Linked DNA regions of Homo sapiens. The protein of the gene in region 7 interacts with the protein of the main gene of each other region in a biochemical or structural test. Each region holds a gene or a part of one and is shown on either strand. Other genes may lie near its edges.

Region 1 (3,500 bases), on a different chromosome or scaffold from region 7:
CCAGGCTGCGCATCACTTTCACCTGGGGGTGGGGGAAGCCAAGGAAAGCTGGTGGTTAACTTCTCACTGTCTTCCTTACCTCTTCCCTCCAAGGAATCAGCTTGACAAGTGTTACCACCTGTATCTCCTACCTCCTATCTTGTGATATGACAGGGCACTAAGATCAGGATGAGGGAAGACCACCACCATATAGATGGAGATGGCTTCATAGGCCTTACCCTTGGAACTGCATTGGGAGAACTGGGGTGGGAGTGGCCAAGTGGCTTGGAGGGCAATACCCAGACCACAGGTGTCCCCAACTTAAGTTACTCCATGAAGTAACTTGGGAGGGGTAGTGAAAACTGTAAATGCCCAAGGAGTGTGAGTGCTCAGGGAGCTCCCCTCCAGGCTCCCTTAGCAGGGCGTTCAGGTGAGGATTATAACATTGAGTTGTACTAAATTGGAGTGTTTTCATGTCCATCATCCTCATAACCTGAGAGCTCTTCTGAACCCTGTATCTTTTGTTACTGCATCCCTTGTACCCTGTTTGTGTTGCTTTTAGTAAGTGTTCATTGAACAAATAATTACGCTGTAATTTAGAGGGAGTGGGATATTCCTCTAGGGCTCTTTTCTGCTTAGTCTTTAAGACAGTAATTCCAAACTGTATTTTCTCTTGAAGCCATTATTTGTAAGGTCTTCTCTCTTCCAATGGTGACACCAACCTCCCGGGCCCCCTCCATCTTCTTACCTCAGTCAGAAAAGTTTTCTGGGTCTCCTCATCACATCGAATTAACTCTTTCATGACCATCACTTTGCCCGTGGCTTTGTGTGTCACCTACAGGGAGGGTGACTGTTAATGGTGCTGAGACCAGAGGAAGTTCTGGAGAACTGTTTGAGAAAATCTATGCAGCTGGCCATCCCATCCCTTGGAGGGCACACTGAGCCGGGTCAGAATGACAGAGTTCATGTGTGGAAGATGCAGCGTGGAGCAACATGGGACTCACACGGAAGCAAACCCTCTTTCCTGGAGAGCTGGGCATGCACAGAGGACAGGCAAGAACCCAGAAAAGGGAAGTGGGGAAGAAGGCAGGAGGGGATGCTGCCAAGCCAAGCAGGGGCTCTGGTCATTTGGCATAGAAGTGAGTCTCCTGAGTGAACAGAAGTCTGGGGGCAGGAAGGTCAGTGCCAAAGACATGCACCAGGGAGCTGGGTGGATCGGGGGTGAGCTCTCCAGCCCTGCTGCCCCCAAGCTGAGACACACGTCTTACCTGACCCCCCCTCCCAGTTCTCAGCAGAAGAGGAGGAGGAGGAGAGAAAGAGAGAGGTTAGTCCCTGAGACTGTTCACCAGGGAGGCAGGAGCCATTCCCCTGTGTGCTCCTTGTAGCATGCCCGGTACTGAGGTCTGCAGGCACCTAACAAACACCCACTGACTGGAGGCAGGAGGGCCACAGGCACAGCTCAACCCAACCTGGATCTCCAGGTCCACAAGCTCACTGTAACAGCAACATTGACCTTAGGTGGCCTGGGTGGGGGTGAAGGATACCTCTCACACCAACACCCAAAGCCAGGAAGGAGGCCTGGCATCCTGCATGGTGTGGGGTGGGGCCAAGTGATGAGAAATCCCCGAAAGACAGTGACAGAGGGACTGGGGGCAGAAGAGCAAAGCAATTGTTGCCTGCGCTCACCTTGATAGCCTGCCCAAAGAAGCCCTTCCCCAGGACCTCCCCATGGATTAGGTCACAGGGCCGGAAGATCTGCTGTGAATAGCTGCTGGAACAACGAAGGGATTCTGAGCGGCTGATGTCACGGCTGAACAGCAGGGGCTCCTTTGGGGAGCTGGGGCCAGGGGACTTGGAGATACTGTTACTGCGCCTGAAGATGAGGAAAGACGGGAGTAGGGATGTGTAGTCCTCAGAGACCGGCCAAGAAACCCTGGAGGGAGGAAACTTAGGGGCACCTGTTCATTCCAATGTCTATAGTTTAGATGTTATTATTGGGGAACAGGGGCTCTTACATCAGATGTATCATTTTGGGGTTGCTGACATCAGTCATTTATTTAAGCATAGTAAAAACACATTCAAAATGGGAACTCTGCATACATCACACATAGAACAATTAACTAGATTCTACTAGCTGATAATGCTCAGTATGTGACATATATGACAACACTGTAGATGGTAATTCACCATCTCCCATATCTGCTTGATTTAAGTACTAACTGGTTTAGAGTGATAGTTATACTAGTATCCAAAAAATGAGCAAATGGGATTTTTTTTTTTTGAGACAGAGTCTCGCTCTGTCAACCAGGCTGGAGTGCAGTGGTGTGATCTTGGCTCACTGCAACCTCTGTCTCCCTAGTTCACCTGAGTCTCATGCCTCCGCCTCCTGAGTAACTGGGACTACAGGCATGTGCCACCAGGCCCGGCTAGTTATTGTTATTATTATTATTTTTGAGACAGAGTCTCGCTCTGTCGCCCAGGCTGAAGTGCAATGGCACGATCTCGGCTCACTGCGACCTCCGCCTTCCAGGTTCAAGCGATTCTCCTGCCTCAGCCTCCCAAGTAGCTGGGAGTATAGGTGCACGCCACCACGCCCGGCTAATTTTTTTTTTTTTTTTTTTTTTTTTGATGGAGTCTCACTCTGTCGCCCAGGCTGGAGTGCAACGGCGGGATCTCCACTCACTGCAACCTCTGCCTCCCAGGTTCAAGAGATTCTCCTGCCTCAGCCTCCCAAGTAGCTGGGATTACAGGCGTGTGCCACCACAACCGAATAATTTTTGTATTTTTTTAGTAGAGATGGGGTTTCACCATGTTGGCTAGGTTGGTCTCGAACTCCTGATCTCGCGATCCATCTGTCTCGGCCTCCCTAAGTGCTGGGATTACAGGCGTGAGCCACCACACCCGGCCCTAATTTTTGTATTTTTAGTAGAGATGGGGTTTCACCATATTGGCCAGGCTAGTCTCAAACTCCTGACCTTGTGATTCGCCCACCTCGGCCTCCCAAAGTGCTGGGATTATAGGCGTGAGCCACTGCGCCCAGCCTAATTATTGTATTTTTAGTAGAGATAGGGTTTCACCATGTTGGCCAGGCTGGTCTCAAACTCCTGACCTCAAGTGATTTGCCCGCCTCGGCCTCCCAATGTGCTGGGATTACAGGCGTGAGCCACCGTGCCTGGCCAGCAAATGGGATTTTGGATGATATTTTGCACATCTTTGTACCTGTCCATGTTTCCTGAATTTTAAGATGATAAACACGTATGATTTTTACAGCAATAAAGTCACTATGTTTACATTTTCAAAAGCGGTCGATAATAGTCATGGTCAATGACTGTTATTTTCACTTACTGAAGAAGGAACAAGAAGGTTGAAGTCCACAGCACTGCAGGTGAACAGCCCTGCGAACTTTCTCTCTGGGGTATGCTCCTGCTTTACTTGGGCTACCCAGAGAGGACTGACGCTGGATGGCTCTTGGCTTGTCCCGACCTACAGGTTTACTTACCCTTGTCCTTTTGCTCTGCCTC
Region 2 (3,500 bases), on a different chromosome or scaffold from region 7:
CAAACTTTCTCCATATCAGCAATAAGGCTGTTTCGCTTTGTAAATCATGTGTTCACTGGAAGTAGCACTTTTAATTCCCTTCAAGAACTTTTCCTTTGCATTAATAACTTGGCTGTTTGGCACGAGAGGCCTAGCTTTCAGCCTACCTTAGCTTTCAATATGCCTTCCTTACCAAGGTTCATTTCTAGTTTTTGATTTAAAGTGAGAGACATGTGGCTCTTCCTTTCACTTGAATACTCAAAGGCTATTGTAGGGTTACTAATTGGCTTAATTTCAATACTGTTATGTATCAGGGAATACGGAGGCCCAAGAAGAGAGACATGGGGAAATGGCCAGTGAAGTAGTCAGAACACACAATTATTAAATTTACTGACCTATAAGGGCATGGCTCGTGGCACGCTAAAACAATTACAATAGTAACGCCAAAGATAACTGATCACATGTCACCATAACAGATATAATAATGAAAAAGTTTGAGATGCTGCAAGAATTACCAAAATGTGACACAGAGACATGAAGTGAGCACACGCTTTTGGAAAAATGGAGCAAACAGACTTGTTGGCTACAGGGTGACCACAAGCTTTCAATTTGTAAAAATAAAAATGAGGTATGCTTTTATTTTATTATATTTTAGTCTTGAATAAACCCCTTGATGCCAAGAACTACATTTTATATTCTTTATATAAAATGACAGCACCTAGGCCGGTGCCTTACATATAATAATCTGTTTTATAAATGTTTTTGTAATAAATATGCAAATAAATCTTTTTCAAGATAACTTTTTTTTTTTTTGAGATGGAGTCACCCAGGCTGGAGTGCAGTGACACAATCTCAGCTCACTGCAGCCTCTGCCTCCCAGGTTCAAGCAATTCTCCCGCCTCAGCCTCCCAAGTAGCTGGGATTACAGGTGCCCGCCACCATGCCCTGGCTAATTTTTGTATTTTTAGTAGAGATGGGGTTTCACTGTGTTGGCCAGGCTGGTCTCAAACTCCCACCCTCAGGTGATATGGCTGCCTCAGCCTCCCAAAGTGCTGGGATTACAGGAGTAAGCCACCACGTCTGGCCCAAGTAGTAGAGAACTTTACATGGAGTGGAATTGAAGAGTCTTTAATAAGAGGAAGAGACTGGTGGAAAGGAAGTTCTAATCTTTTCATTTAGCCATTGCACAGACATTTAGTGGACACTTATGTGCCAGACACTGTGCTAGGCCTTAAGAACAAAGATTCAGAAAAATAATCCCTGCACTTTGAGGTACAGTTACATGAAACATGATCATCGCTGATACAGGTGCTTCAAAAACACCTAAAAAGGGGGCTGAGGGAGTGAGGTTTCCAGGAGGAGGCAAAGTCTTACACTAAATCTGGAAGAAGGAACGTGAATGCCAGCTGAAAGGAGAGTGGGAGCGCAGGCTGGATAATGGAAGGGAGGTGAAAGAAAGATATACAGCATTTATAGGACTGTAATAAGCTGAGAGCTGTTAGAGCATGCAGCATGTACGTGCAGGGTGAGAGGCAATCATGAATAAGTATACAAGAAAAGGTCTGATAAGGCTGCTCATGAATTTTGAGGGCATAATACATACAGTGGTTTGGGTTCTGCCTCCCAACTCCCAAGAGTAGAGGGCAGTATAACCCAGGAGCTAAGAGAGTAGGCTCTGGAACCAGAGGACCTGATTTAAAATCTTGGTTCTGCCATTTTTTAGCTGGGTGACTGGGCTAGTTACCTAATCCCTCTGGGTCTCCGTTTTCTCATCTGTAAAATGGGAATGATAGTCCTATCCCCTTAACATTATTGTCACATCTAAATGACTTAAAACACTATGTGCATGCAGAAAGAGCTCAATTTTTTAAAAAAGCTGTTACTACTACTCTAAAGTTCTAACATAAAATGCAAAGACAGTAGGACAGTATTTCCTCAGCTCCACTTATATTGGGGAAAACATATGGGATCTAAGACTCAATAGCTTCCTTTGCATGAATTCTACAGCCATGTTACCTGGATTCAAAGTTTAGCAAGGTAATTTGAGCAACCTAAGTAACCTCTCTGTGCCACAGTTTCCTCATCTGTAAAACAGGAATAGGAGTGGCGCCAGGTGCGGTGGCTCATGCCTGTAATCCCAGCACTTTGAGAGGCCGAGGTGGGTGGATCACCTGAGTTCAGGAGTTCGAGACTAGCATGACCAACATGGAGAAACCCCGTCTCTACTAAAAAATACAAAAAATAGCTGGTTGTGGTTGTGGGTGCCTGTAATCCCACCTACTTGGGAGGCTGAGACAGGAGAATTGCTTGAACCCAGGAGGCAGAGGTTGCAGTGAGCCGAGATCATGCCGCCGTTGCACTCCAGCCTGGGCGACAAGCAAAACTCTGTCTAAAAAAAAAAAAAAAAAAAGAGGAATAATAGTAGCTACCTCATAGGGTTGTTGTGAGGCTTAAATGAGGAAATGCATGTAAAACACTCAGCACCACACCTCAAATGTAGTTGAAAGAGTAAGGAGAGCGAATATATATATTGCATTTATTATATGTGCCAGTCATTGTTTTAAATGTTTTTCACTCATTAATTATAATTATTCTTCCTCATATGCATAATGGTACTAGCGCCTGAAGGTGAGGGTTTCAACACTTTTTTCTTCAATCTATGTAAAAAGATGATAATACTTTCTGCCTTTAGCTACATACGTGAGAAGTAGGCTAATCAAAGTAAAAAATATTGTATACCCTTGGGAAGAGAGGGGTCACAGAAGGTGGAAGGTGATCAGATTGCGTCATCCCTGAAGTCCCCCTGGAAGCCCAGCCCATGTCCATCCAGCCTTATGGGGAGTTCATTTACCTTCAGGGGCAGTGGTGTTTTCAGAATTTTCCCTGCCCTGGTCGGCATGGTTGGCAACTGCACTCCCGCTCTTTGTCCTTCGAAGAACACTCAAAGCTCGATTTATTTTTTTAAATGATCTGCTTCTAATAGTGGATCTCTCAAAGGGCCGTGCTGAGGAATAGCGACAGGAGGAACAGTAGTTATGATTTAATAGAAATAATCATTTATGTACATATCTGATAAGATATACACAATAAGACATTAACAGTGACTACCTCTGGGTGGTAGGATTGTAGAATTTGCTTACCTGTATTTTTTAAGTTTTCTACAGTGAAATATGTACGACGTGCTTAAAATCCTGCTTTTCTTTTTTGTTTCTGGGCTGAACTGAATACAATACCACTTTTCTTGAGCAGCATGGCTGAAAAATTACTGACACTGCAGGAGTGATGAATCATTAGGTCTAGTTTCAGCCCCTTTCACCAAGTCAGATTACACACAGTTTTAATGATTGGAGGTACTTGCGGTTTCATTTCACTTTGGCGAATTGGACATTGGGTTCCTGCCAAAACTACCAGAACGATTTCCCCTTAAAAAACATTTACAGAACTTTCCACAGTAAGTATTCCACAGAGGGCAATCGCAAGCCAAGGAGCCCATTCCCGGACAACCACCCATTTGACTCACC
Region 3 (3,500 bases), on a different chromosome or scaffold from region 7:
CATCATCATCATTATTTAAAGCCCGAAATTCTCTTCTGAACATCCTTTTGGCCCCAACCCAGGAATTGTGAAATACAATATTCTAAATGTTATTTTAGGAATGGTCTGTAATTGCAGTTTTGATTCCCAATTTAAACTCAGTTCTTCAGGAGATTTTTGGTGTTATTGTTAATTTCATGTAGTTAAATTTCCCAGATTTAGTGTTGCTGTTCTTACAATTTTTTATTAGAAAATTCCAGTTTAATTGCATCGTGCCACAGGATGTGTCTTATTTTTATTTGTTGGAATTCATTGAGGTTTACTCTGTTAGCCAGTATGTGATGTGACTAAGTGTTTTATGTGTTCTGTGCACATTTGAAAAGAATGATTATTCTGTGTTTTGGGTTTCAAATATGTATATATTCAAATGTGATATTAAAATGCAGTCATTATGGTCAACAAAGAACTGCTTATATGATAGTGGTCCCATAAGATTAAAATACCATATTTTTACTGTACCTTTTGTTACAAATGTTCAGATACACAAATACTTACCACTGTGTTACAAATGCCTACAATAACATGCTGTACAGGCTTGTAGACTAGAAGCAGTAGGCAATACCATATAGCCTTGGGGTGTAGTAGGCTATACCATCCAGGTCTGTTTAAGTACCCTATGTAACGTTTGTACGACGATGAAATTTCTCAGAACTTATCTTCATTGCCATGCAACACATGACTGCATATATATGTAAGCACATATTCAATTTTGTAAGTCATAGAATTCAAGCTCTTTATGTACATTTTGTCTAATTAATCTGAAAAAATCTTAACAGTGGTGTACATTGAAATCTAACACCATATTTGGAGTATATCTCTAATTTTTTTGTTTTACATATTTCGACGCTTTATGTTTACCCAAAGTTTTCTGATTTTCATGCCTTCATTGAGTGCTCTTTTTATCATTTTGTAAAAAAGTAATTCTTGATCTATTTAATAGTTGCCTCAATTTTTATTTTGTCTGACAAAATTAACACTGACACCTCACTTTCTTTTAATTTGCATTTGCACAGTATTTTCCTATCCCTTTATTTGTAACTTTATGTGATTAAGTTTTAAATGTGTCTCTTGAAAGTGGGATATAATTGGACTGGGGAGAGAGAGTTTGTTTCTTTAGGCTTTTTTTGTTTCCCTTTTTTAAACTGAATCTGAGAGTCTCTTTTATTTTAATGTGTAATCTTACTACAGAGCTTAATTGATTCATCTTTCTTCTCACATGTTTTGTTTTTCTTATTATGGCTCCTTAATTATTCCTTTTCTTGTTTTCCAGTCAACTTATTCACACTTTCTTTTCCTTCTTAATGAATCATAGGTTTCATTCATTTTATTTGATATTACTGGTGGCTATGTAAAGAATTTTTCAAAGCAATATTTGAGCCTGTATTTTTCCTCTTCATTGATTGCAAGAATGGCACTATCTGATGCCTCTTCCCTATGCAAGAGGTGAGGTGCTAGGTGCTCTCAGAGTGATTGACTATTTAGGGGACATCATAGATCATTATATATCATCTCTCAAGATTTTTTTTTTTTTTTTGAGATGGAGTCTTGCTCTGTCATCTAGGCTGGAGTGCAATGGTGTGATCTCGGCTCACTGCAACCTCCGCCTCCCAGATTCAAGCCATTCTCCTGCCTTAGCCTCCCGAGTAGCTGGGATGACAGGCACGTGCCACTATGCCCGGCTAATTTTTGTATTTTTAGTACAGATGGGATTTCACCAGGTTGGCCAACTGGTCTTGAACTCCTGGCCTCAAATGATCCACCCACCTTGGCCCCCCAAGGTGCTGGGGTTACAAGTGTGAGCCACTGCGCCCGGTCTAAGATTTATCATTTGCTTTATTTCAAAATCGTATTAACAACCGTCACTGAGACTTAAAATTTGTCTTGTTTTGTGGCCTGTCAATTTTTTTATCATCATGGTCTGCTCCCCCAACCCCTCCAGGCTCTTGCTCTGCCCTATCTTGAACTCCATTCTATTACAGCACTAAACCTTTTCAGTCCCCTGAATGTCCCATGCGCTCTCTAGCTTCCAGGACTTGGTGCAGGCTGCTTCCAATGCCTTCCAAATTTTCTTTTTTTTCTTTTTTTTTTTTAATTTTGTTATTATTATACTTTAAGTTTTAGGGTACATGTGCACAACGTGCAGGTTTGTTACATACGTATACATGTGCCATGTTGATGTGCTGCACCCATTAACTCGTCATTTAGCATTCAATAAACGTAATCCAGCATATAAACAGAACCAAAGACAAAAACCACATGATTATCTCAATAGATGCAGAAAAGGCCTTTGAGAAAATTCAACAACCCATCATGCTAAAAACTCTCAATAAATTAGGTATTGATGGGACGTATTTCAAAATAATAAGAGCTATCTATGACAAACCCACAGCCAATATCATACTGAATGGGCAAAAACTGGAAGCATTCCCTTTGAAAACGGGCACAAGACAGGGAAGCCCTCTCTCACCACTCCTATTCAACATAGTGTTGGAAGTTCTGGCCAGGGCAATTAGGCAGGAGAAGGAAATAAAGGGTATTCAATTAGGAAAAGAGGAAGTCAAATTGTCCCTGTTTGCAGATGACATGATTGTATATCTAGAAAACCCCATCGTCTCAGCCCAAAATCTCCTTAAGCTGATAGGCAACTTCAGCAAAGTCTCAGGATACAAAATCAATGTATAAAAATCACAAGCTTTCTTATACACCAATAACAGACAAACAGAGAGCCAAATCATGAGTGAACTCCCATTCACAATTGCTTCAAAGAGAATAAAATACCTAGGAATCCAACTTACAAGGGATGTGAAGGACCTCTTCAAGGAGAACTACAAACCACTGCTCAAGGAAATAAAAGAGGATACAAACAAATGGAAGAACATTCCACGCTCATGGGTAGGAAGAATCAATATCGTGAAAATGGCCATACTGCCCAAGGTAATTTATAGATTCAATGTCATCCCCATCAAGCCACCAATGACTTTCTTCACAGAATTGGAAAAAACTACTTTAAAGTTCATATGGAACCAAAAAAGAGCCCGCATTGCCAAGTCAATCCTAAGCCAAAAGAACAAAGTTGGAGGCATCACGCTACCTGACTTCAAACTATACTACAAGGCTGCAGTAACCAAAACAGCATGGTACTGGTACCAAAACAGAGATATAGACCAATGGAATAGAACAGAGCCCTCAGAAATAATGCCGCATATCTACAACTATCTGATCTTTGACAAACCTGACAAAAACAAGCAATGGGGAAAGGATTCCCTATTTAATAAATGGTGCTGGGAAAACTGGCTAGCCATATGTAGAAAGCTGAAACTGGATCCCTTCCTTACACCTTATACAAAAATTAATTCAAGATGGATTAAAGACTTAAATGTTAGACCTAAAACCATAAAAACCCTGGAAGAAAACCTAGGCAATACCATTCAGGACATAGGCATGGGCAAGGACTTCATGTC
Region 4 (3,500 bases), on a different chromosome or scaffold from region 7:
AAGGACTGAAAGTCTGGGATAGGACAGACAATTACTTTCATTTTATACTTGTTGACATTATTTGCTTTAAAAAAGTTAAACCATGTACATTATTACTTTATAAATTAAAAACTCTAGTAAATAATTAAAAACAGCCGACCACCCATGGTCCTGATATAAGGACCCAGGCCTGCGACTCAGCTCTTGAGTCTGCTTATCTCAAAGAGGTCATAGGCACTTCTGGTAGCCCATAATAAGATAAAGTGAATTTCACCACATAAGCATGGTGCTAGTTCCTATTAATTTCAGAGAGATGAGTATAAATTGTGGGAATTAGGGTAAACTCAAGAGGTTTTCGACTAGAAGTACTTTAAGCATCACAGCATTCTGCATTTTGCTATGCTAGGCAAAAAACAAAAACCAATTCCCTCATCCCCAAACACAAACCAAATGCAAAGACCACTTTGATTACTTGTGGAGTAAATGGGGGGCAAAGGAAAAGTGAGAATGGGGTAGCCAAGCTGATAGCAGGCACACAACGAATATTTTCAGAAAAGTACAAATTACCATAATGTAAATTAGGGATTTCAAAGTACCTTTTTTCTGCTATGTCATGCTTTTAGAAGAAGCTGTATATAAAAAATGCATCCAAATTTGTTTCTATGAATCATACAGTGGATACTGCACAGTGAGTTTGTGATACCATTTAATATCAAGAACTTGGTCCAAATATTTGATTTTCATTTGGACACTATGAAGATATGGCTATTTAATTAGCAATGTTTATTTTAATCTTAAGCAATGCAAGAAATTAAAATACCTTGCCAACATTTAATTATGAGAATTCAAGTGCTATTTTGTAACAATGCCTTGAGAAGGTCAAATTTAAGATTGTTTGGCTATCATATGAATTTCCCTTTTAGTACCGGGAACCTAAGACTTTGTAGAGTGCTGCTCACAAATGCCTGGTGTTTGCTGTCCGTTTCCAAACAAGGAATCAACAATGTGATACTTCCTTGAAGGAAAAACACCTGCAGACAGGGCCAAATAAATCATAAAAGGTGCTTCTTTCTTTCAGCTTTGACAGCCTTCACTTGCATTTCAAACTGAGAGTTTCAGGCTGTTTTGAGTGCTTTGAATAGGCAACCACATGTTTGTCACACGTGTGTCCTTCATGCATGAGTTCCTCATTGTCCTGTTCCTTCTGACCCACCCATGCTGAAGCTTCGATGTTTACACTCGCCAGACATTTAGTGAGCAGATGTTGGGCTACAACACTACCACTGGGTTAGGTAGTAGTATTATCCCATTGTAACAGATGACATGGCTGAGGCTCATTGACTTTCAGTGTCCTAAGTCCACAAATTGGCAAATGGGAAAACCAGGGCTTAGCCTGATCCTTTTCCTTTACACTCTTTTTTCGAGATAGTATCCTCTTTATCTATGGCCCCTTCCCTCCCTTCTCTCTCTAGGTTCACTGGTCATCCAGAGCAAAGCAGCAGAGGTGTGGAGAAGGGGCCCTGTGCTTTACCCCATTCCCTTCCCCACAGAAAAGGTAGAGGGGAAGAAACATTCAGGGCTCAGAGCTTCTACCACACTTGGCACTGTTCCTATTTCCATACTTTGCCCGGGACACTCAGGCCAGAACTTCAGCCCTCACCCTGTTCTGTAACTTTCTTCCCAGATCATGGGAGGCACTATGGGTAATTGTTGCTAGTGCAGTTCCTGTAGTAGCAGAAGTGTCCTGAACAGCATCATTCCAAACTGTGAAAAGATTTTTCTACAGCAGCACAGCTCCCACAGCTCTCACAGTTCATGGTCCTTCTGAGTATTGTCAAGACTGTGCTTGGGCTTAGTAGGGGTTGAACTGGCTTCCACCTGCTAGCCTGGAAACCTAAGCACGATTAAAAGCGTTGCTTCCATCGTAAAAGCAGGTTTCTTAATTAAATCAATGGGAAACCAGTTTGAGTTCTCCATGACCGATACATGAATGAATTTTTGAAACAAAATACATTCATAGTTGGGGATTTAATCTTTACCCTCCAACTTTCTATCAATATGTCTGTAAGACTGAAAGAACTATTATTATTGTGTTTAATACAAAATAGAAAAAGACATATTCTGAATTCAAAAACAAAGTTTCCTTTAATTCATGTTTTTCTCTCTCACTCTTTAAGCTTTATTTTTTAAAGTATAATTTCATTCAACTCCAAGGAAATCTGCATTTTAACAATATTATTAAATGATCCTACTATTTTACCCACATATTTTATTGCTGAGCCAGTGTTTGTCTTACCTCCTCGATGGATAATCAAAGAAGTTTCACTTCCAATGGGACAGTCCTTAAGTATATCCACTACTTCTGTATGGCTCAGGTTCTGTACATTCTGCTGGTTGATCTCAACAATGAGGTCGCCTTCACACAGGCCAGGGCATCCCTGAATGTCAAGTATTTGTTTCACCCGCTGTCCTGTAGGACTGTCGGCAATAGTGAAGCCGAAGCCCTGGGCACCTTTCACAATGGTTAAGGTCATAAGTTCAGCTTGGGTGGCCCCAGATGAAGCCATAGACACATTGTCATCATGGACGGGCGGTGGATACGTGCCGTCTAGCTGACCATCAGTTGGCATGGAGTGCAGAGAATGAGGCGGCCGATCTGTTATATCTGGAACTGACTGTGAGGTCCGAGAAATGTACTCCAAATATGTTTCATAGTTGTGTCTTCCATTGACCATCACTGGAGGTGGCCTCTCCATTATTGCAAGGGGTGGCACCATGCTGTTAGCAGGGTCTTCAGGATCAAAGGGCAAAGGGTAGCCACGACACAACACCAGGTTGACACTCTGACCAATAGGAACAGACTGGAAAAGTTTGACAACATCTGCATGAGTGTGTCCAAGGACACAAACTTCATTAATATAGACAATGACATCACCTGTAAGAAAAAAAGAGATTGACAACATGAGGTAAGTTCAATTAACATTGACATAGAGAAATGGAATTATTTACGAGACTAGTGAGAGGTGTTGTTTCTTAGTAAGCAGTGAGAAATCAATTAGAATAATACTTAAAATCACTGTGGGTGACTCAAGGTTACAACAGGACTGCCAGCAAATACAATGATGAAGTGCTGAAAAAAAGCTATTTGGTTATTCTTGAAGTTCAGAAACAACTTCATATTCAGAAACAAAGGCTCTGAAAGAAAAGGTTAGAGGAATGTGTACCTTGAAGAAGCACATTCTCTATGCTTCTTTTTCATCTTATATTCCATCTTCAGTGTAATTCAGTTAATATAATTTTCGAACTATTGAGAAGTAGTGGTCATGAGTTTTAGACGAAAAACAAAGCCCTAGCATATTTTTTTTTGTATAAGTTGAATAAGTCAATTGCCTTTTTTCTTTTTTATGGAACAGAAAAATATTTGCCCATTTATTTTTTTCCATCTATAGCAGGTAATTACAAAGCTTCCATGTATATGCGAGCAAAGGTCAAGGGTGCAGGTTTTGGGATTAGGGAGCTGG
Region 5 (3,006 bases), about 130 Mb from region 7:
GGGCTCCAATGGGAGCCATTTCCTCATCTGTAAAAACAATAATATAGGCCTGTGGTTCAGATGTGTTGGTGCAGGGACAAAAAGCTGGAGCTGTGGTATAGCCATGCCAGAAGGGAAGGATTGGGGGAGGGGAGGGGCAAGAATATGGCTCCAGCTTAGCCTAGGCCTCATGCTCTGCTCCCCAGAGTGGAAACAAGGTGGCCATTTCAACAACTCCCCTGGAGAACACATCCATTAAAGTGGGGCCAGCTCGGAAGGGCAGCTACAAGGCCAAGATGGCCCGAAGGAGCAAGAGGAGCCGCGGCAAGGATGGGCAAGAAAGGTGAGCCAGGCGCAGTGAAGAGGGTTTTCTCTGAGCCACATGAGTGCTGGTACGTGGTGGGTGCCTTGGCCCTGGGGGTCCAGTGTGTGCTGTGCTCACTGCACCGACTCAGCCTTTGACCCTTATCCCCGCAGCAGAAAAAGGAGCTCCCTGTTCCGCAAGATCACCAAGCAAGCATCCCTGCTCCACACCAGCCGCAGCCTTTCTTCCCTTAACCGCTCCTTGTCATCAGGGGAGAGTGGGCCAGGCTCTCCCACACACAGCCACAGCCTTTCCCCCCGATCTCCCACTCAAGGCTACCGGGTGACCCCCGATGCTGTGCATTCAGGTACGAAGGGCTCCCTGCAGATCAGTGACAACCCCTGGGAAATAGGAAAGTTCCTAGGCCCTGTGTGCTTCTGACAGATCCCACTCTGAGTCTCTCATTTAGCCCACCCCCTGAAAGATCCTGTAGTCTTGGGGAGGAATTAATTGATGGGGAAGGGGGTAGCTTGGTTTCTGGGACATAACAGGGCTAAGCCCTGTCTTGCCCTTGAGTCACTTCTAACAGCTAACACTGCTCTGCTTTTGTCTGTCTGTCTGTCTGTCTCTGTACAAAGTGGGAGGGAATTCATCACAGAGCAGCTCCCCCAGCTCCAGCGTGCCCAGTTCCCCAGCCGGCTCTGGGCACACACGGCCCAGCTCCCTCCACGGTCTGGCACCCAAGCTCCAACGCCAGTACCGCTCTCCACGGCGCAAGTCAGCAGGCAGCATCCCACTGTCACCACTGGCCCACACCCCTTCTCCCCCACCCCCAACAGCTTCACCTCAGCGGTCCCCATCGCCCCTGTCTGGCCATGTAGCCCAGGCCTTTCCCACAAAGCTTCACTTGTCACCTCCCCTGGGCAGGCAACTCTCACGGCCCAAGAGTGCGGAGCCACCCCGTTCACCACTACTCAAGAGGGTGCAGTCGGCTGAGAAACTGGCAGCAGCACTTGCCGCCTCTGAGAAGAAGCTAGCCACTTCTCGCAAGCACAGCCTTGACCTGCCCCACTCTGAACTAAAGAAGGAACTGCCGCCCAGGGAAGTGAGCCCTCTGGAGGTAGTTGGAGCCAGGAGTGTGCTGTCTGGCAAGGGGGCCCTGCCAGGGAAGGGGGTGCTGCAGCCTGCTCCCTCACGGGCCCTAGGCACCCTCCGGCAGGACCGAGCCGAACGACGGGAGTCGCTGCAGAAGCAAGAAGCCATTCGTGAGGTGGACTCCTCAGAGGACGACACCGAGGAAGGGCCTGAGAACAGCCAGGGTGCACAGGAGCTGAGCTTGGCACCTCACCCAGAAGTGAGCCAGAGTGTGGCCCCTAAAGGAGCAGGAGAGAGTGGGGAAGAGGATCCTTTCCCGTCCAGAGACCCTAGGAGCCTGGGCCCAATGGTCCCAAGCCTATTGACAGGGATCACACTGGGGCCTCCCAGAATGGAAAGTCCCAGTGGTCCCCACAGGAGGCTCGGGAGCCCACAAGCCATTGAGGAGGCTGCCAGCTCCTCCTCAGCAGGCCCCAACCTAGGTCAGTCTGGAGCCACAGACCCCATCCCTCCTGAAGGTTGCTGGAAGGCCCAGCACCTCCACACCCAGGCACTAACAGCACTTTCTCCCAGCACTTCGGGACTCACCCCCACCAGCAGTTGCTCTCCTCCCAGCTCCACCTCTGGGAAGCTGAGCATGTGGTCCTGGAAATCCCTTATTGAGGGCCCAGACAGGGCATCCCCAAGCAGAAAGGCAACCATGGCAGGTGGGCTAGCCAACCTCCAGGATTTGGAAAACACAACTCCAGCCCAGCCTAAGAACCTGTCTCCCAGGGAGCAGGGGAAGACACAGCCACCTAGTGCCCCCAGACTGGCCCATCCATCTTATGAGGATCCCAGCCAGGGCTGGCTATGGGAGTCTGAGTGTGCACAAGCAGTGAAAGAGGATCCAGCCCTGAGCATCACCCAAGTGCCTGATGCCTCAGGTGACAGAAGGCAGGACGTTCCATGCCGAGGCTGCCCCCTCACCCAGAAGTCTGAGCCCAGCCTCAGGAGGGGCCAAGAACCAGGGGGCCATCAAAAGCATCGGGATTTGGCATTGGTTCCAGATGAGCTTTTAAAGCAAACATAGCAGTTGTTTGCCATTTCTTGCACTCAGACCTGTGTAATATATGCTCCTGGAAACCATCTTTATGTCTTTTGCTTGCTTGTTTTCCTTCGGTCAACCCACATGTAACTAGGTCCTGTGTTGCTGCTGGGAATATAGTGGTGAATAAAACAGTTTCCACCACCAGGGGAGGGCCACCTAACCCAGCTTGACTTCCCAAAGGCTTTGACATTTGAGCTCAAACATGAAGAATAGATGATAGGTAGTAGTTTGCTGGGTGTGGAAGAGTGGAGGTTGGCATAAGAAAGGCTGTCCAGGCAACGTTTAGCACATGCAGTATACCTGGCATAGTCAAGGAACCAAAGATAATTCAAAGTAGAAACGGGTCTGGCAAGTGAGGCAAGGGCCATGTCTAATGGTCTTCCAGGAGATTTGACTTCGTGAAGGTGATGGGGAACCAGAAAATACCATGTAGCAACTAAAATTCCTTCATAGATAAGGGCACTAAGACTTTGATGCCCATGGTAATACAGTAGCTTGGGTAGAACGGGGGTTAGAACGTAGGTCTCCCTTGGACTCC
Region 6 (3,500 bases), on a different chromosome or scaffold from region 7:
ATGAAAAGGTGTAATTTGTTTGCAGGGTCCTAGACTTCCTGAGACCTAAAAATGTGACCTTAGGCTGAACGCTGTGGCTCACGCCTGTAATCCCAGTTTTGGGAGGCCAAGGTGGGCAGATCAAAAGGTCAGGAGTTCGAGACCAGCCTGGCCAGCATGGTGAAACCCTGTCTCTACTAAAAATACAAAAATGAGCCAGGCGTGGTGGTACGCGTCTGTAGTCCCAGTTACTTGGGAGGCTGAGGCAGAAGAATCGCTTGAACCCGGGAGGAGGAGGTTGCAGTGAGCCGAGATCGGGCCACTACACTCCAGCCTGGGCGACAGAGTGAGACACTGTCTCAAACAAAAACAAAAAAAAAGTGACCTTAATGCAAATTAAAATTAGCAAAGAAACCAAAAGGTGGAGAACTAGACCGTCATTACCAGGTTCCCTTACTGCACTGCCACTGTTTCCAAAAAAAAAAAGGGGGAAGACAACAATTCAGAGTGAGCACTAAAGAAAGCATTATCCAATAGCCATAGGCTCATTTTTCAGGCTAGTGACCTAACAATTTAACAAATAAACGCGAAGCTAAGCCTAAGAAAAAACTAATCAACGAAATAACATTTACCTTTGGAGTCAGCATTTGGGAACAGCCTGTTCCATGGCACCTTATTTTTGTGTGGAAGAGAAAGCAAATAGTTCCTAGCTTTTAAATTTATTATACAATTCAGGTCTTCTTGTGATGGGGATCCAAGAATACCTATCAGATAAAAAAATTAGCTATTAGTTATCAGGACCAAGGTAAATGACTACACACCATCAACTCTGAGTCGGAATGAACCCTGATAATTGATATGAGCCGTTGCTTATCACCACTCCTGATGTTTACCTTTCTTATGTTTTTACACAAAAGTCCTTAACATTTTAAATCAGAGAAGGTTAAAAATTCACACCTACCACAGGTTAAAGAGTATATTAGAACTCTTCTTAATTTAATGAAGTGACTTTGATGTAAGCTGTACAAACTTGAGTAAATCTAGCTCCTGAAGGGCTCGGGAACCTTACCCAAAATGTGGTTCAGCTGGTCAAGATAATGCTTCCCTGGAAAGATGGGCCTGTTAGAAAGCATTTCTGCCAGAATGCAGCCTACAGACCAAATATCAATGGACTTGGTGTAGCCCTGCAGGAGAAAGAGAGAAAAGACTGAAAATGGTATCTGGTGTTACAGGACATGATGAGATCTTCCTGTATGACAGGTGCATTGCTGATGGGACTCTGAACTTCTCCTTTGACTCTACAATTCAGAAATACAAGTAAACAACATGGAAAAGCAAAAAACAATTTGGCTTTCTTATGAGAGGCTGAACAACCAAGATTATGTGATTTTATTTTTCTCTTCATAGTTGATTAACTTGGGCTGGGCACAGTGGCTAATGCCTGTAATCCCAGCACTTTGGGAGGCCGAGGCGGGCGGATCACTTGAGGCCAGGAGTTTGAGACTAGCCTGGCCAACATGGTGAAACCCCATCTCTACTAAAAATACAAAAAAATTAGCCGGGCATGGTAGTGGGTGCCCGTAATCCCAGCTACGTGGGAGGCTGAGGCAGGAGAATTGCTTGAACCCAGGAGGCAGAGGTTGCAGTGAGCCAAGATCGTGCCACTGCACTCCAGCCTGGGTGACAGAGCGAGACTCTGTCTCAAAACAACAACAAACCCACAAAGTTGATTAACTTATTAAATTAGAATTTCCAAAGTATACATCCGTCCTTTTTTGAAACAATTTGAGAGACAGATTTAGAATTGTCATAAATTGGAGCTGGAAAAAGAAAAAAGGTCTAAAAACCTTTTCTGGGTTTGGGGGAGTGTGTGCTAGCTCCATCATATTTTACCAATCTCTTCTAAAATATTCTCAGCTGGGCATGGTGGCTCACGTCTGTAATCCCAGCACTTTGGGATGCCGAGACGGGCGAATCACCTGATGTCAGAAGTTCAAGATCAGCCTGGCCAACATAGTGAAACCCTGTCTCTACTAAAACTACAAAAATTAGCCGGGCGTGGTGGTGGGCACCCATAGTTCCAGCTACTTGGGAGGCAGAGGCAGGAGAATTGCTTGAACCTAGGAGGCAGAGGTTGCAGTGAGCCGAGATTGCACCACTGCACTCCAGCCTGGGCAACACAGGGAGACTCCATCTCCAAAAATAACATAACATAACATATAACATAACATAACATAACATAACATAACATAACATAACATAACATAAACATAACATAAAACATAACATAACATATAACATAACATAACAAATAAAATAAAATAAAAGAATTCTCATCTTCTTTTCCTATTCATTTTTCAGGAATATGTTTTCTTTTAAAGGAATCCTGTTAGAAGTCATGGGAGGATACTTTGGGAGGCTGAGGTGGGAGTACTGCTTGAGGCCAGGAGTTTGAGGCTGCAGTGAACTATGACTGCAGTTGCACTGTTACACTCCTAATAGCAGCATGTGAAAGAAAATGCATTTCCTCATGTCCTCAACAACACTGGGTATTAACTAATTATTATTATTATTATCATTATTATTATTATTTTGCCACACATGGTGGCTCACACCTGCAGTCCCAGCTACTCGGGAGGCTGAGGTGGGAGGATCACTTAAGCCCAGGGATTGGAGGCTGCAGTGAGCTGTGACCGAGCCAATGCATTCCAGCCTGGGTGACAGAGTGAGACCCTTTCTCTAAAAATTAAAAAAAAAAAAAAAAAATCATGGAAGGATTCTGTCTGAATCATAACAATGGTGCAAAAAAGATGTTTCTCCAAGGAATATAAGCTGACTCTTTTAAAATTAAGAGATGGTGTCATCACTCTGTCACTCAGGCTGAAGTGCAATGGTGTAATCATGCCTCACTGCAAATTCAACTTCCTTGTCTCAGGTGATCCTCTCACCTCAGCCAGGTCCTGAGTAGCTGGCACTACTGAGTAGCTGGCACACAGTAGGTGGGCCACAGGCATACACCACCACACCTGGTTGATTTTTAAATTTTTTGTAGAGAAGGGGTCCCACTATTTGCCCAGGCTGGTTTCAAACTCCTGGGCTCAAATGATCCTCCTGCCTCAGCCTCCCAAAGAGCTGGGATTACGGCATGAGGCACCATACCTGGCTCCAGAAGTGCCTTCTAATACAATGAAGTGCTTTTCTGGTATTCATGTTAAAAATGCATGACCCAAAACTGAGGGGCATTCTACAAAATAGCTCATCTGCACTCTTAAAGGAGACTAAAGAAACACAACAACCTGTCTCTATGAAAAGCACAAAAATAAATAAGTAAATCAGCCATGAGCAGTAGCACGTGCCTGTAGTCTCAGATACTTGGGAGGCTAAGGTGGGAGGATGGCCTTGAGCCCAGGAGGCGGAGGTTGCAGTGAGCCGAGATGGTGCCACGGTACCCCAGCCTGGGTGACAGAATGAGAACCCGTCCTTTTTTTTTGAGACGGAGTCTTGCTTTGTCACCCAGGCTG
Region 7 (3,500 bases):
GTTTCAGTGTCATAGGAGGGCTTCCTTTAAAAAGAAAACATATACAACAATGGGGAAACGAAAGCACCGGAAGATACTATCATTCAGGTTGTTAACACTGGCAGGAAGTAGAGGGATAAGAAGGAAGACAGAGTACCCAAAGATATTTACAATCAAAACGGCACGCACAAATTCATCTTAATGAAAACAACACACACGTATCAAGCATGCACACACTTGGTGCACGAAAGAGGTCATCAAAATAGTTAGGGGCTATTTTTAGGCACAGGGATTTCCCATGATTTTTTTTTTTTTTTTTTTTTTGAGACAGTCCTGCTCTGTTGCCCAGGCTGGAGTGCAGTGGCGCATCTCGGTTCACTGCAACCTCCGCCTCCCAGGTTCAAACAATTCTGTCTGCCTCAGCCTCCCGAGTAGCTGGGATTACAGGCACATGCCACCATGCCCGGCTAATTTTTGTATTTTTAGTAGAGACAGAGTTTCACCATGTTGGCCAGGCTGGTCTCAAACTCCTGACCTCAGGTGATCCGCCCGCCTCAGCCTCCCAAAGTGCTAGGATTACAGGCGTGAGCCACCCCACCTGGCCTCCTGTGATTTTTGACAGGTAAAATAAGAATTTGATTTTCTAACTTGTTTTCATTTTTTAAAAGCATGTTTCCTCATAATTTGAAAAAAAACACTTGAGGGAAAATCATAAACATTACACATGGATGTACCCTGAAGCTCATGTATTTTTTAATTAGAAAAACTCTCCTCTTAAGCCTGAGATACACAGATCTGGGCCTGGGTCTTGAATTAATTTAGTCAGTACCTTTAGAAGATGAACTGACCTAGAACGCAAGTATCATTGAATACACATTTTTAAAAGGTCATTATTAAGAAGGATAAAAATATTTTATCTTTTTCACTATAAACCAGTGACAATGAAAACTACGCATCAGAAGCATCTGAGAAATTTAAAACATACAGGGGTACCTAAGCCCCTCTCAAACTACCGAAACAGAGTATCTGGGAATGGGCACAGTTATTTGTATAGAAGCACAACTGCGCCTAGGGTTAAGAACCACACTAAAGAGCCAACCCTTAACTACAAAGACCTTAAAAAGCAACTTGCTGGACGTGCCCTCTTCAGGTAGTTTGACAGTTGAAAGCAGAAATACATTATCCATAAAGACAAACTATTAAAAATCCATGATCTCAAACAATACACTAAAATTCTTTAAAAAAATGGAAGTAGACTCACTCTTTTTCTTTGCACTCCTTTTCAACCTGGGTCAGGTAATCCCACCTTGTGTTTTCCACTTTCTTTCTACACAATATAAGAACTGTATCAGTCTTGACCTGGAAGAAAAGCAGGAAAACAAATACAGCTTAGAAGACATGGAGATAAGCATGAATATTTATAAAACAATTATCTATTCAATTGATCAAGTCCCTAGTATGTATAGACTTATTTTGGGTGCCAGTAATACTTGTATGAATAGGCCAAAATCTGAACATTCATGGTGTGAAAAGACCATAAATAAGTAAAACTTGAATACCCTGATATCCTGGAAAGTGCTATCAAGACAAAGCGGGTGTTAATGGGGGGTGGGGGCAGGAACTTCATTAGGAAGGCCTCTCTGAGGCAAATCTGAGCCGAAGCCTAAGGTCAGGAGAAGGCAGTTGGCAGAGCATGCAGAATGGCTCCAAGATGGGATCATCTTGGTGTGTTTGAGGAGCAGGAGGAGTGGCTGGATTTTAGTGACTGAAAAAGACAGTAATATAATAAGAGGGGTCGGGGATAGGCAAGAAACCAAGTCGTATAAGGCAGTATGGGGCAAGGTGAGGCATTTGAAAGTGAGAAAGAAGGGCAATGTACAGGTCTTTTAAACAATGATCAATACTAGGGATCTTTTGGTACTCTACCTATGGGACTAGCGGATGCAGAAGGGTGCAGTAAGACAGCGAATCCAACTATATTTGAGTATCACCTGTAAGCTGTTAAGTAATTATGTATTATAAAAACAGATGGCAGAATGTCATGTCTATATACCTAACGCATTAAACTTCATTTATTCACATTAGGCAGAAAACAGGGACTATCTGATTTAGTAAAAATTACAAAGAGTAGTTTTTAAAAGACAGTTTCCTTATTTTTATAGCTGCTTCTAACTCCAAGGAGGCTAAGTGCTTAAGACCTCCTTTTATGTATACGAGTATTATGCACAATGCTAACACTAGCATTAATTTAAGCACTTTACATAATGGTATTGCACTTCAGTGTATCATTTCAACTTTGTGAAATAAATTATTACTATCGCATAAATGCAGAAACTGAGGCACAGAGTGATTAAGCTGCCAAAGGTCACAAACAATAAGCTGTAAACCTGGCATAAAACTCAAGTCTCACTCTTAACTACCTTCAAACGTTTACTTCCTCCCTGATTTTAATGGAATATTCTTACAATAGCCTATTCTACAAAAGGAGTTGGCAAATGTTCTCTGTCGAGGGCCGCATAGTAAATATTTTAGGTTTCATTTAGGGCCATATGGTCTGCTGTAGCCACTTAACTCTGCCATTGTAGCACAAAAGCATCCACAAACAACACATGAACAAATAAGCCTGGCTATGTCCCAATAAAACATTCACAAAACAGGCGGTGGTCCCTGTTACAGAGGACAAATTCATTCCAGTTCATCTCAGTTCTAAATCAGCCAGGTTCAATTTGGTAAGGTTTCACAATATTACAATCAAAAAAAGCACACTCACTTTTTTTGAACTGCCTTCCACAGAGATGGGTTTCAAGAGATTGTTCACAATCATGGAGTAACTCTTCCCATTTAGATTCTTTACCAAAAGATCAAATGACCTGCAACACAATGGTGAATACATCATCTTTCTAGTTCTATGAAAGGTACCCTTACTCCATAGTTCTTGTGGGAAAAAAGCTGCTGGCTTTATTTCAGGGTGTGCATTTGGCCAGTTAACGCTCACCTCTTCAAAGTAGTTGTAAAGGATAATTAATTCTAAATTTAAGAATTTTAAAAACTGCAAAGAAGAGAGTCTCAAGATAAGGCAATGTTGACTGTTAATTCACTGTCTTTCCCATTATAATGAGAACTCACCTCTCTGTGAAATGCACCTGCACATTCTCAGTGGGAACTTGATGAACTCCAGTTAAGGTAATGTAGATTTTCACAAACTTATCTGACTGATCCCATCCTGGCAACGACAACAAAAGATGGGACGTAAGTAAGCCTCTGAAACTATCTTTAGAACAGCAAATGCACATGGCTCATAAGTCAGGAAAGTAAAATTATGAAAATCCAGTCATATAAACATGAAAAAATTTGAAATATAAGAAATTTTCTAGGTTGAGAAATGGAGCCTCAAAGCAGTTAAGTACTCTACCCAAAGCTAGGCATCTAACAAGTGGTAGAATTCAGATTCAAATCCAGGTTTCTGAATACAAAACCTATGCTCTTTTTATCCCTCAGAATAAAAATATGATCACTAAATA

What was found.
Region 1: the proteins of CACYBP (region 7) and LIMK2 interact in a test that uses a peptide from one of them, tested with the Homo sapiens proteins (one large-scale study listed by IntAct).
Region 2: the proteins of CACYBP (region 7) and LNX1 interact in a test that uses a peptide from one of them, tested with the Homo sapiens proteins (one large-scale study listed by IntAct).
Region 3: the proteins of CACYBP (region 7) and IL16 interact in a test that uses a peptide from one of them, tested with the Homo sapiens proteins (one large-scale study listed by IntAct).
Region 4: the proteins of CACYBP (region 7) and MAGI2 interact in a test that uses a peptide from one of them, tested with the Homo sapiens proteins (one large-scale study listed by IntAct).
Region 5: the proteins of CACYBP (region 7) and MAST2 interact in a test that uses a peptide from one of them, tested with the Homo sapiens proteins (one large-scale study listed by IntAct).
Region 6: of the proteins of CACYBP (region 7) and MAPK1, one has a biochemical effect on the other in vitro, tested with the Homo sapiens proteins (2 studies listed by BioGRID).

Annotation. Positions count from the first base shown.
Region 1 is NC_000022.11:31,264,298-31,267,797, reverse strand, and holds part of LIMK2 (LIM domain kinase 2), read right to left. Parts: intron 1,853-3,500; coding exon 1,666-1,852; intron 815-1,665; coding exon 728-814; intron 23-727; coding exon 1-22. UniProt on the Homo sapiens protein: Serine/threonine-protein kinase that plays an essential role in the regulation of actin filament dynamics. Acts downstream of several Rho family GTPase signal transduction pathways.
Region 2 is NC_000004.12:53,504,487-53,507,986, forward strand, and holds part of LNX1 (E3 ubiquitin-protein ligase LNX), read right to left. Parts: coding exon 3,500-3,500; intron 2,984-3,499; coding exon 2,831-2,983; intron 1-2,830.
Region 3 is NC_000015.10:81,203,379-81,206,878, reverse strand, and holds part of IL16 (pro-interleukin-16), read right to left. Parts: intron 1-3,500. UniProt on the Homo sapiens protein: Interleukin-16 stimulates a migratory response in CD4+ lymphocytes, monocytes, and eosinophils. Primes CD4+ T-cells for IL-2 and IL-15 responsiveness. Also induces T-lymphocyte expression of interleukin 2 receptor. Ligand for CD4.
Region 4 is NC_000007.14:78,253,668-78,257,167, forward strand, and holds part of MAGI2 (membrane-associated guanylate kinase, WW and PDZ domain-containing protein 2), read right to left. Parts: intron 2,915-3,500; coding exon 2,276-2,914; intron 1-2,275. UniProt on the Homo sapiens protein: Seems to act as a scaffold molecule at synaptic junctions by assembling neurotransmitter receptors and cell adhesion proteins. Plays a role in nerve growth factor (NGF)-induced recruitment of RAPGEF2 to late endosomes and neurite outgrowth.
Region 5 is NC_000001.11:46,033,617-46,036,622, forward strand, and holds the end of MAST2 (microtubule-associated serine/threonine-protein kinase 2), read left to right. Parts: intron 1-185; coding exon 186-322; intron 323-456; coding exon 457-650; intron 651-921; coding exon 922-2,450; 3' UTR 2,451-2,506; downstream 2,507-3,006. UniProt on the Homo sapiens protein: Appears to link the dystrophin/utrophin network with microtubule filaments via the syntrophins. Phosphorylation of DMD or UTRN may modulate their affinities for associated proteins. Functions in a multi-protein complex in spermatid maturation.
Region 6 is NC_000022.11:21,787,646-21,791,145, forward strand, and holds part of MAPK1 (mitogen-activated protein kinase 1), read right to left. Parts: intron 1,164-3,500; coding exon 1,049-1,163; intron 744-1,048; coding exon 612-743; intron 1-611. UniProt on the Homo sapiens protein: Serine/threonine kinase which acts as an essential component of the MAP kinase signal transduction pathway. MAPK1/ERK2 and MAPK3/ERK1 are the 2 MAPKs which play an important role in the MAPK/ERK cascade.
Region 7 is NC_000001.11:175,006,447-175,009,946, reverse strand, and holds part of CACYBP (calcyclin-binding protein), read right to left. Parts: intron 3,203-3,500; coding exon 3,106-3,202; intron 2,850-3,105; coding exon 2,750-2,849; intron 1,339-2,749; coding exon 1,241-1,338; intron 25-1,240; coding exon 1-24. UniProt on the Homo sapiens protein: May be involved in calcium-dependent ubiquitination and subsequent proteasomal degradation of target proteins. Probably serves as a molecular bridge in ubiquitin E3 complexes. Participates in the ubiquitin-mediated degradation of beta-catenin (CTNNB1).